Linked DNA regions of Homo sapiens: region 2 is linked to region 1. The links come from fine-mapping of genetic effects on gene expression. A gene starts in region 1. The other region holds a variant in brackets. All regions are shown on one strand. Distances are between the middles of the regions.

The links. PIP is the estimated chance that this variant, and not a neighbour inherited with it, causes the effect. A credible set is the group of variants that fine-mapping cannot tell apart.
Region 2: its variant is the best candidate, but not a certain one, in a credible set for the expression of INSIG1 in whole blood (INTERVAL, PIP 0.77).

The regions. Positions count from the first base shown.
Region 1 is chr7:155,294,557-155,299,927 of GRCh38, forward strand. It overlaps INSIG1 (insulin induced gene 1), which reads left to right and starts at 3,322. Exons shown (of 6, transcript NM_005542.6): 1 at 3,322-3,403; 2 at 3,703-4,141. The coding sequence starts at 3,730. INSIG1-DT (INSIG1 divergent transcript) reads right to left here and starts at 4,424. Exons shown (of 2, transcript NR_183448.1): 1 at 3,595-4,424. RefSeq lists enhancers at 2,318-2,367, 4,778-4,847 and a silencer at 2,828-3,657.
Region 2 is chr7:155,236,703-155,242,073 of GRCh38, forward strand. It overlaps LOC105375587 (a long non-coding RNA gene), which reads right to left. Exons shown (of 5, transcript XR_001745437.2): 4 at 2,789-3,081; 5 at 1,567-2,131. Among named protein-coding and RNA genes, the nearest start is that of INSIG1, 58 kb to the right of the region's middle. The variant G/A (reference allele first, on the strand shown) is at 3,177.

The DNA of each region.
Region 1 (5,371 bases):
GAACAGGAAATCCATAGAGACAGGAAGTAGATCAGTGGTTGCCGTGGGCTGGGGGTGGAAGTCGGGATAAGGAGGCAATAACTAAAGCATATGAAGGTCTTTTCTGGGGTGATGAAAATGTTCTAAAATGGACTGTGATGATAGTTGTACAACTCTGTGAATACACAAAAAAACACTGAATTCACCGTTTAAATGGGTGAATTGCACAATGCATGAATTCGCCCTCACTAAAGCTATTAAAAAATGGCGTAGTCTGTATTGATTGCCTTTAAAAGACGTTCATGATCACTTAATAACTGGTTCCACTAATGTGAAGTTGATCCTATTTGTGTTTTTTTAAACACATTTATGGATAGAAAAAATATTTGGAAATACATACCTCAAAATGTTAACAATGGTCATCTCTAGTTGGTAGGATTATAGACTATTTCTTTAAAATATATTTTTCCACGATGTTTTACAATGAGCATGTGATGCTTTTATATGAAAAAATATATATTTGGTAATCTACTTTATCTTAAGAATATTTCTTACAAATGGTTATTAATGTTATAATAAAAAGAACAGTAAGAACAGACTAAAGGCAAGATTGCTCACTACGTGACACCTCCCAGTCTTTAGGCCTTTATGAGTGCATGATTCTTCCGTATCCGAAAGAGCTACAGCCGTCCTGTGCTCCCTTCCGCCAGCCTGTTCAGTACAGAGGCCACCAGTCTGAGGGTTACTTAGTGATCTGGGAAGGCACGGCGAGGTGTTTAACTCAACAATAGTCAACTCCCCTAGAGTAAGGCCACATCTGTGATGATTTCTGTATTGTGGGGCAATTAAGAACTAAACGGTGCCATCATGAGCAGATTTCCCTAAATGCTGAACTCAGAGTGGCTGACAGGGGCTGAAGAGAATGAACCCCATTATCTTCAACACACGGCCCACGATTAGCAGGGAAACAAAATCAACAACAGCTTTGCTTGAGGATAAGCAAATTTCAACCCCTGAAAATCTTGGAATGTGGTTACTGATATGGAGGCTCGGTCTTCAAAGGGGGTATTCAAGGGGGTAAACTCAAACTCTCCCACTGTCTTTACCCCAGGCTGCATTTCTTCATGGGGCCAGACTCCACAGGCACCTGGGCAAACACACATTGGGAACGCAGTGACAATCTCTACCTACGACTCAGAGGCCACGCTGGAGGCCCTCAGCAGGAACCCCACGGGCAACCTTCCCACATTCCCACGGGACATCTTGGTCGGTGTAAGTGCAACAGCCACAGAGCCACAGGGTGCCTCTATGACTCCAGGATCTTCCATGGTTCATAATGTCCCAGTACAGATGAGAGGAGGGACAGAGTCAGAGAGGCTGGGTTGTATGAACACTGGTTTATTAGGTAGATAGGAAAAGAAGAATGAAGTCAATAGTCTTTAGCAAGCCAACTAGCTCAAGGAATAGACAGCCCCTTTCCATTCTGGAGACAACACATAAATCTATTAATATTAAATATTGTCATGAGGTATGCACCTGCCCACAGGGGTATTATGATGGAAATACTGGGGTAGTCTGCAGGGCCAGGTACAAATGACGGGAAACAAAGCCAGAGAAACTGAAATACCTCTTGGACCCCAGAAGACAGATGTACTGATTTCTGGGATGTCAGGAGCCCAGTGCAGAGCAGCTGGATAGGTCGCTAAGAGCTTTCCCTTCTGCTTATCGGGTCTCACACACCTGGATAAACCAGTTATTGAAAGCTGACCTGCTAATGAGAAGCTTCTGGCACTTGCTGGTGTTTCCTAATTGAATGGGTGACTGCCCCGCATCTCAGGGCCGGGGCTCCCGTGCGGACGCCTCTCCATGAGGTTAGCAGCTTGATTTAGATCAGCGTGCGGGACGGGGAGCTCACAGTGGGGTCGAGGAGACACAGCACAGGCTTCTGAAAGGTGCCCTGTCCATTAGGGAGCACCCCATTTACAGATGGGTCATCCTTCAGCTCACTAGTTTCCCAGCGCATGACAGTGGGTAGCTTTTTTTTTTCCTATTATAAACAAATCTTCGATGTGACTGCGATGATCTACGGATGATCTACGTATCTGGTTGTGTGATCCTCAAGCACTTATGCAAGGTGGAGTGTAAACAATGGCCAAGACCCAAACTGCAATGTTCCCTGAAGTCCAACCTGCTTGGAGTCCTTGGGAACGTGTACAATGGTTAACAGGCTTGAGAGGAGTCAGCTGGGAGAGTGAGAGCGAGACTGCCCTGCAGAGGGGCCGCTGAGGATGGACCCCTGTAGGCCGTCCACACCCACCACGCGTGTCATCCTCAGGAAATGCAACCGGATGCTCGGAATTTCGCCCCTAAAGCGACTCAGGGCAGTCTCAGCTCAGGAAGACTTCTTTTTTTGACCTTCTGGCTTAAAGCCACAACCCCAGGCTGAGGATGCCACATCAACGGCGTTTCCTCGCCACGCTGCAGGCGTGACTCACGTTTCTAAGCCTGCAGGGTCCCCGGGCCAAGCGCGGCTACTGAGAGCACAGCGTCCTCCCTCAGCCCCTGCTCATCTGCACGGAGCAAAGCCGCAGCTTTCTCTGCTGTCAGCGCTTTATACGACTCGGATGTAGGCTCTGAGCGGGCACGGGCCCGCCCTCAGACGGCGACCCGAGGGGCAAACAGGATGGAGGCGCGCTCCCTTGGAGGCTGTGGTCTCGATTTTATCTGCTCCTGGGTGGTGCGGGTGGTTTGCTCTCTAGGCGTGAGCAAAGGCCACAAGGGGCCCGAAAAAATCACCCAAGGATGCAAGCCCGCCATTGCGCTGAGCAGGGGCCTCCCCGCCGCCAGAGCCCGCGCCCCTCCAGGGAGGCCCGCGCGATCGAGACCCGCCGCCTCCCGGCCAGGCGCGGGACACCAGGCGAGGGGAGCCAGGAGCCGGGAGGGGCGGCGCCGGGCCCGCAACCCCACCCTGTCCTGCCTCCGCCTCCTCCCGGCAGGACCGTCCCCTCCCAGGCCCCAGCTCCGCGGCCGCCCACTCGCAGCCGGCCAGTCCCGCTCGGGCCCGCGTGCCCCGCAGCCGCCACGCGCCCCGCAGTCCGTGCCGAGGCTCCCGCCCGAGTGCGCGCGGGCCGGCGGTGGCGTGTGCGCACGTCATATGGGCCGCCGGCCTCCCATTGGTTGCGGCCGCCTCACCAGACCGCGTGCGGACGGGCTCGCGGGCGGGGCGGGGCAAGCTCAGGCCACGCCCCTGGGCGGTGCGCGCGGGCGGTGGGTAGGCCGGGCAGGCTCACGTGATGCGGGCCCCGCGGCCCGCCATATAAACCCGCGCGCCCGCCAGGCGCTGCGGCCGTCCCGGGCCGTGACTCCTCCTTTCCCCCGCCCCGCCTCCGTTCGGAGAGCCGGCGGGCGGGCGCCTCTCGGCCAGGTACGCGGCCGGCTGGGATAGGGGTCGCGGGCGGGCTTTGGTCGCGCAGCAGCCGGTCCTCCCCGGAGGTAGGCGGGCGCGGGCCCTGTTGGGTCTTTGGGACGCGGGTCCCGCTGGGGCCGGGGATGCTGCTCGCTGTGAGCGCGGGTCCCGTCCGCCGCTGGCCCCGGGCGGGCGCACGGGGGTCTAACCTTGGGGGGCGGCGCTGCCGCCTGGCCCGGGTGCCGGGGTTCGCGTCCCGCGGGGCCTTCCTCGCTCTTTGTCTCTTCTGAGTGAACTTGATGACCCCCTTCTTCCAGGAAGCGCCTCTTGGACGCGTGTGACCGATGCCCAGATTGCACGACCACTTCTGGAGCTGCTCCTGTGCGCACAGCGCGAGGCGCCGAGGCCCCCCGCGAGCCAGCGCCGCGGGGCTGGCGGCCAAGGTTGGGGAGATGATCAACGTTTCCGTGTCCGGGCCCTCCCTGCTGGCGGCCCACGGTGCCCCGGACGCTGACCCCGCGCCCAGGGGCCGCAGTGCTGCGATGAGCGGCCCCGAGCCCGGCAGCCCCTACCCCAACACCTGGCATCATCGCCTGTTGCAGAGGAGCCTCGTGCTCTTCTCGGTTGGGGTGGTCCTAGCCCTGGTGCTCAACCTGCTGCAGATCCAGAGGAATGTCACTCTCTTCCCCGAGGAGGTGATCGCCACCATCTTTTCCTCCGCCTGGTGGGTCCCTCCCTGCTGCGGGACAGCAGCTGGTGAGTACCCCTCCTGGTTCTTCTGGAAGTAAAAAGGGTGTCTTTTCGGTTGAAAGTACTTTTCAGCCTATAAGAAACATGCATTTGAAACTGGAACTATCCACAGATTGAAAGTGTGCATCTCCAGTCTTGGGATTTAGAGAAATGAAGGAGGGGTAGAGAGGACCTGGCACCCCCGAGGGCGGGTTCGGGCCACAGCTCTCTGAAGTTTGAGGAAGCACAGTGATGGAGATGAGGCAGGGAGATAATTGGCTGTTCAAGCAGGTGCTGTGCCAAGCTGACTGAGGGCCCTTCCCTCCTGGCGTCCGGGTACAGCCCCAGCTGTCATCCCGCGCCAGCCGCCCCGGATTGGCCGCCTGGGGAACTGGTGAGCAGCGGGACTGAAAGGCCATTGGTCGCGGCAGCAAACATGCTACCCTGCTGGATAACTGAAAACAAACCCGTCACATGGGTTCAGGAGGCGGTTGCCAGGGGAGCAACTTCTCAGCACTTCCTTTTGCCGGGTCGCTGAGTAAACTGTGGTCTGAAGCCAAACCGCCTACACCCTGAACTGTTAGAGCTCTGTAGATTACGTTCTTAAGGAAAAGAGTAACCCCCTTACGGCGTTTAGATTTTCGTACACCCAAGCAGTAGCATAGATGCTGTACAACGTAACACTGAGTCAGTCTGAACTGTGGACACGGGGACTGCTGGGTGTGTGTACTAGACTTTCTTGGCTATCATTGAACCGCTTTTATAGAAATGTTGAGTTGATCTTGGCTCAGCAGATCACTTACTGCTCCTGTAGTCACACAGCATTTGTTTATTTAACGAGCTTGTCGGGTGCTTTCTGCAACCTCAACTCTATAAGCTGTTGAAATGTTAATCCAAAAGTGAGCACCACAAGCCCCTATCCTTAAGCAGCTTAGAGTCTGGTGGGGAAAACAAACCAGTATGTCAGTGACTCCAGTGCAGTGCAGGGAGCATCCTGTTTGCTTTGTGGCTGACGTTTGTCAGCTGACTGCTGACCATAGGCTTCAGATGCTTTGCTGTGTTCATTCCTTACAGCAATACCATGTGTAGCTTCATTTATAGATGTGGCAACTGAATCACAGGTGAAGTCACATCCAAGGGTGCGCAGGTAGAAAGGGGCCAAGCCATCGTTGGTAACTGCTCCTGCTGCCTTGGTAGGTGTGTCTCCTGCACTGTGGAAACACATTGCCTCAGTTGACTCACTGAAAACAGCAAGCA
Region 2 (5,371 bases), 58 kb before region 1:
GCTGCTGCCATCCTCAGAGAGCTGTTCTGCCCTCCTGCCCCAGGCTGCCAGGCCTCTGCCCACTTCAGCTGGAGCAACAGGGCTTCCCCTGGTGCACAGAGCTAACGAGAAAGCCAGAGTGAATCCCACATTCAGCCTTCCTACGCCTCTCTCTGTCCCTATGTCTACCTCTGTCTCTCTGTCTCTATCTCTCTCTGTCCCTCTCTGTCTCTGTCCCTCTCTCTTTCTCTCTTGCTTGCTCTGTCTCTCTGTCTCTGTGTCTGTTTCTGTCTCTGCCTGTCTCTCTGTCTCTCTGTCTCTGTCTCTCACACACCCCTCCACTCCACCCTATCTGTGCCCCTCGCCCCTCAGTGGCCCGGGCCCCCCTCTTCTTCTGCTTGTAGCCACCCCCTCCTACCAGCTGGGTCCTGCCCCATTTCCTCCAGGCCCTTGGTCCATTGATTCTCTTTTAACTCTAGCCTATCCCTTTCAATTTATTATTTTTAATAAGCAGAGAAAGATTCCCAAGACTTTAATCTTAAAAAGAAAAGAAAAGAAAAAATTCTAACCTAGAAACACATCCCCCTAAATGTGGCCCTGTGACTCCCTCCCAGCTCAGGCAGCCAATCCTCCAGAAACTCCCCTCAAGGGCTGGCTTCCTCCCGTCTCTGATTTCCTGTCCCTGCAAATCTTCCCCCCAAGGGAGCCAGGGTGCTGCTGGGCACCTCTCTAATGTGCCTTCTCGGTGGCATGAGACACAGCCAGGCACCCTCCCTGAGGGCGGTCTCCTCTATGACTGAGTCTCTCTGGCTTCTTGTCCTGTTTTGCCACCTGCTCTCCTCCTGGCTCTGTCTTCACTGATTCCCTGAAAGCAGAGCCTGAGCCCGAGCTTCTCTCTGCTGCCCACTGGGGAGTCCCAAGGAGGGGTGGGGAAGGCCAGGAGGCTGATTAGGCAAGTATGCAGAGTCGGGGTCCCCAACCGGCCACTGAGGGCTCCAAACACAGCTGGCTGTGCCCTCTCACAGGGCTGAGAGCCCCCATGAGCTACTGAGGCCCAAGGTGGCCCATCAAAAGGACAAAGGGAGGAGAGCTCCTCACCATCCTTAGTCCAAGGCCCACTCCTGGGACTCTTCAGTAGCACCACTGAAGAGTGCTGGGTGCATCCCAAATCCGCAGCAGCAGTGAGCACGGGGCAGAAGCAGCCAGCACCTGGGGCCTGAGGCACATACTGTGTGCTGTGCCCCAGGGCTCCCAAGACCAGATCACCTCGGTGGTGTCTGGGGTGACTTGCGGGGCCAAGAGTCCAGGAGACAAGTGAAGGCTGAAAGGGCCCAGGGCAGGGCCAAGGGGTGTCTCCCCATGAATAGTAACAGGCCCAGGCCCTGCCCCCGTTCTTCCTGCCCATGCTAGTCTCTCAGCTCCACATTCATATGTGCCATCCACAGAGACCTCAGCTTCACATGTCAGAAACTAGGCTCAGGACGGTGGTTCCCACAAAACTTAGAAACAGAAGTGTCAAAACTAGCTCGGTCGGGGAGACCCTAACCCAGCGGTGCTGGAGGAATTAAAGACATACTCACAGAAATATAGACGTGGGAAGTGGGAAATCAGGGGTTTCACAGCCTTCAGAGCTGAGAGGCCCGAACAGAGATTTACCCACGTGTTTATTAACAGCAAACCAGTCATCAGCATTGTTTCTATAGATGTTAAATTAACTAAAAGTATCCCTTACGGGAAACGAAGGGATGGACCGAATTAAAGGAATAGGTTGGGCTAGTTAACTGCAGCAGGAGCATGTCCTTAAGTCACAGATCACTCATGCTATTGTTTGGCTTAAGAATGCCTTTAAGCGGTTTTCCACCCTGGGTGGGCCAGGTGTTCCTCGCCCTCATCCCTGTAAACCCACAACCTTCCAGCCTGGGCATTAGGGGCCATTATGAACATGTTACAGTGCTGCAGAGATTTTGTTTATGGCCAGTCCAGTTTTGGGGCCAGTTTATGGCCAGTCCAGTTTTGGGGCCAGTTTATGGCCAGATTTTGGGGGGCCTGCTCCCAATATGTCCCCCTTCTCTGATTTGCAAATCGATAAAAGCAAAGGCAGCTTTGTCACGGTGAGCTACTTCTTGCAGGAGTCAGGATCCACATCTGCAGACTATACAAAGACAAACAACACAGATTAAAAGCACAATCATCTTTGAAATCACAGAGCTTCCAAGTGTTTTTTCTCCATTTTCAGCTCCTTTGAGCACTCCAGGTTCTGGAATTAAGGTCAGGTGTGCCTGGGATGCTTTAAATATTTGTTCTTTTCATTTTAAATCCTTATGTTAAGCTCCTAGAGCAGCCCATATCATTTGAGGTTGAGGTGCCACTATACCGCCATGGTTCCAGATAATAGGAACTCTTGCCGTACTTCTTACCATTTCTACCATCTGACCGTTTTGTTCAGATCATCTGAACATAGTGTGGCCGTGGCACGCAGACTGAGAGGTGCAGTTCAAGCTAAACATCCCCTTGGGGGACCAATTAATAATGATTCCGCAGGAATCGTTGTGCAGCACCTCTGCCTGTTCTGCAATGCAATCTTCCAAACAAGTACGCTCATTTTTTCTAACTGGTTCCAATCCTGTTTACAAATAGGTTTTTGAGGGTGGTGTGTGTCAATTATAAGAGCAGATTTATTATGGTGAATACTGAGATCAGAAAGCATGTGTAACTGTCAGAGTGATTGCATCCAGTCATTATTGCCAGCCAAGATGGATAAATAAGTAGAACTGTTCTCTGTGTAAGCCCTTATTGAAGGAATACTCACGGCGGTGGTGATAACCGCTATCAGAGCTATCATTAAATTATTCATTGTGACTGGTTGTCCCGCTTTCCTCAGGTTTTCTTCCGCCATCTGTGACAGCTTCCTGTTCTGTCCCCAGGTGGGTGGCTGTGTTCGATGGGTGTTGCTCGTGACAGTTGGGGTCCTCCGCAGCGTCAGTCTTGACATGGCTGCAACCGGGGGTCCTCGGGATCCTCCTGGAATCTCTTCCTCTGCATCTGGCTCATGATAAGGTTTCAGGTGTCTTGATGGTATCCAAATCGGCTGTTGATTTTGGCCTGGAGAAACACAAGCATAACCTCTACCCCAAGTTATTATTTTACCTATTTCCCAACGTTTTGTAATTGGATCTCTCCACCAAACCAGTTGTTCC[G/A]CTTTTGTCTTTGCAGCTGGTTTCTGTAAATGCTGTTCAGCTGCTGATAACATCTGGTCTTTGGGCAGGCTCAAAAAATTTAAAGTTAATAATGCTAGGTTCAGTTGCATCTATGGGGTTCCATATACTCTGTCTCCCCCTTTCTGCTTTTGCAACTGCTGTTTTAGGGAAAGATACATTCTTTCCACTATGGCTTGTCCTTGAGAATTGTATGGGATACCAGTAATGTGTTTAATATTCCACAAAGAGAAAAATGTAGCTAGAGTTTGGCTAGGATAGCCTGGGGCATTATCTGTTTTAATAGAAGCTGGAATGCCCATCACTGCAAAACACTGCAAGAGGTGACATTTAACACAGGCAGAAGGCTCTCCTGATTGGCCTGTAGCCCAAAGTGAGAAAAGGTGTCCACACATACATGTACATAAGCTAGTCTCCCAAACGAGGGAAGATGTGTGACATCCATTTGCCAAACAGAGTTAGGTTCCAATCCTCGAGGATTAACTCCTCCTGTAAAAGATGAAGAATGGGCCATTTGGCAAGTTGGGCATCGCTGGATAATAGCTTTAGCTTCTTTCCAGGTAATACTGCATCTGCGTTTGAGACCAGAGGCATTCACATGGGTTAAATTGTGAAAGTGTCTAGCATTTGAGATTGCATTAGCAATTAGGCGGTCAGCCATTTGATTCCCTTCAGCCAAAGGTCCTGGAAAAGGTGTACGAGACCTAATGTGAGTGATGTAAAAAGGGTGCATTCTACTTCTAACTGCTCTTGGCAGTTGGGTAAATAAAGTCATCAGTTGTTCATCTGTATGAAATCGTAACTGAGCACTTTCAATTAACTGTGTGGAATGAACCACGTATGAAGAATCAGAAATCACATTAATAGGCATATCAAAAGCAGTCAATACCTCAATTACAGCTACAAGCTCTGCTTTTTGAGCTGAAGTATAGGGCATCTGGAAAACTTTACTTTTCGAGCCAGAATAGGAAGCTTTACCATTACTAGACCCATCTGTGAAACAATGAAAATGCTTAGCAGGCTGCAGGTTGTTTACTGCAGGAATTGTAAATGCAAACCCTTCACAGTCTTGCTCAGCTAAAGAGATAGTAAAGAAACTGTCTTTTAAATCTATGACTATTAAAGGCCAATTTTTTGGAATTATAGTAGGAGAAGGCAATCCTGGCTGTAATGCTCCCATAGGTTGTGTAACTGAATTAATGGCTCTTAAGTCAGTTAACATTCTCCATTTACCTGATTTTTTCTTAGTTAGGAAAACTGGAGAATTCCAAGGGGAAAATGTTGGAGCTATGTGCCCATTTTCTAATTGTTCGGTAACTAATTTCTCTAAAGCCTCCAGTTTCTCTTTGCTTAGCGGCCACTGTTCTATCCAAATTGGCTTATCTGTTAACCATTTTAAAGGTATAGGTTCTGGAGGCTTAACAATGGCCACCATCAAAAATGATATCCTAATCTTTGGCGGGAACTTTGTTTTTCCACTTGAAGCGGTTCCTTCAAACCTTGCAAATTTTTTCCTGTTCCCATGCCAGGGACATACCCCATTTCATGCATCATATGTTGACTTTGAGGGCTATATAATTGTTCTGGAATTAGAACTTGTGTTCCCCATTGTTGTAATAAATCCCTTCCCCATAAATTTATAGGTACAGAAGTTATAATTGGTTGAATAGTCCCAGATTGTCCATCGGGCCCTTCACAATGCAAAACATAACTACTTTGATATACTTCAGGGGCTTTACCAACTCCAACTATGTTAAATTGAGTGGGTGGAATTGGCCACGCAGACGGCCAGTGCTGTAGAGAAAGGATTGAAATGTCCGCTCCTGTATCTACCAAACCTTTAAATTTCTTTCCCTGAATAGTTATTTCACAGGTAGGACGTTTATCAGTAATTTGATTTACCCAATAAGCCGCGTTGCCTTGTTTATTTGTGCTTCCAAATCCACCTGTTTGTTTAATTTCACTTTTCCCCATTTTCACATACGGCAAAATTAGGAGCTGTGCTATGCGCTCTCCTGGCTTTGCTTTCCAGGGAACAGAAGTAGATATAACAATTTGAATTTCCCCATTGTAATCTGAATCAATGACTCCTGTATGTATTTGTACCCCTTTTAAACTTAAACTAGGCCTTCCTAAAACTAATCCTATTGTCCCCGCTGGCAAGGGTCCACAGACTC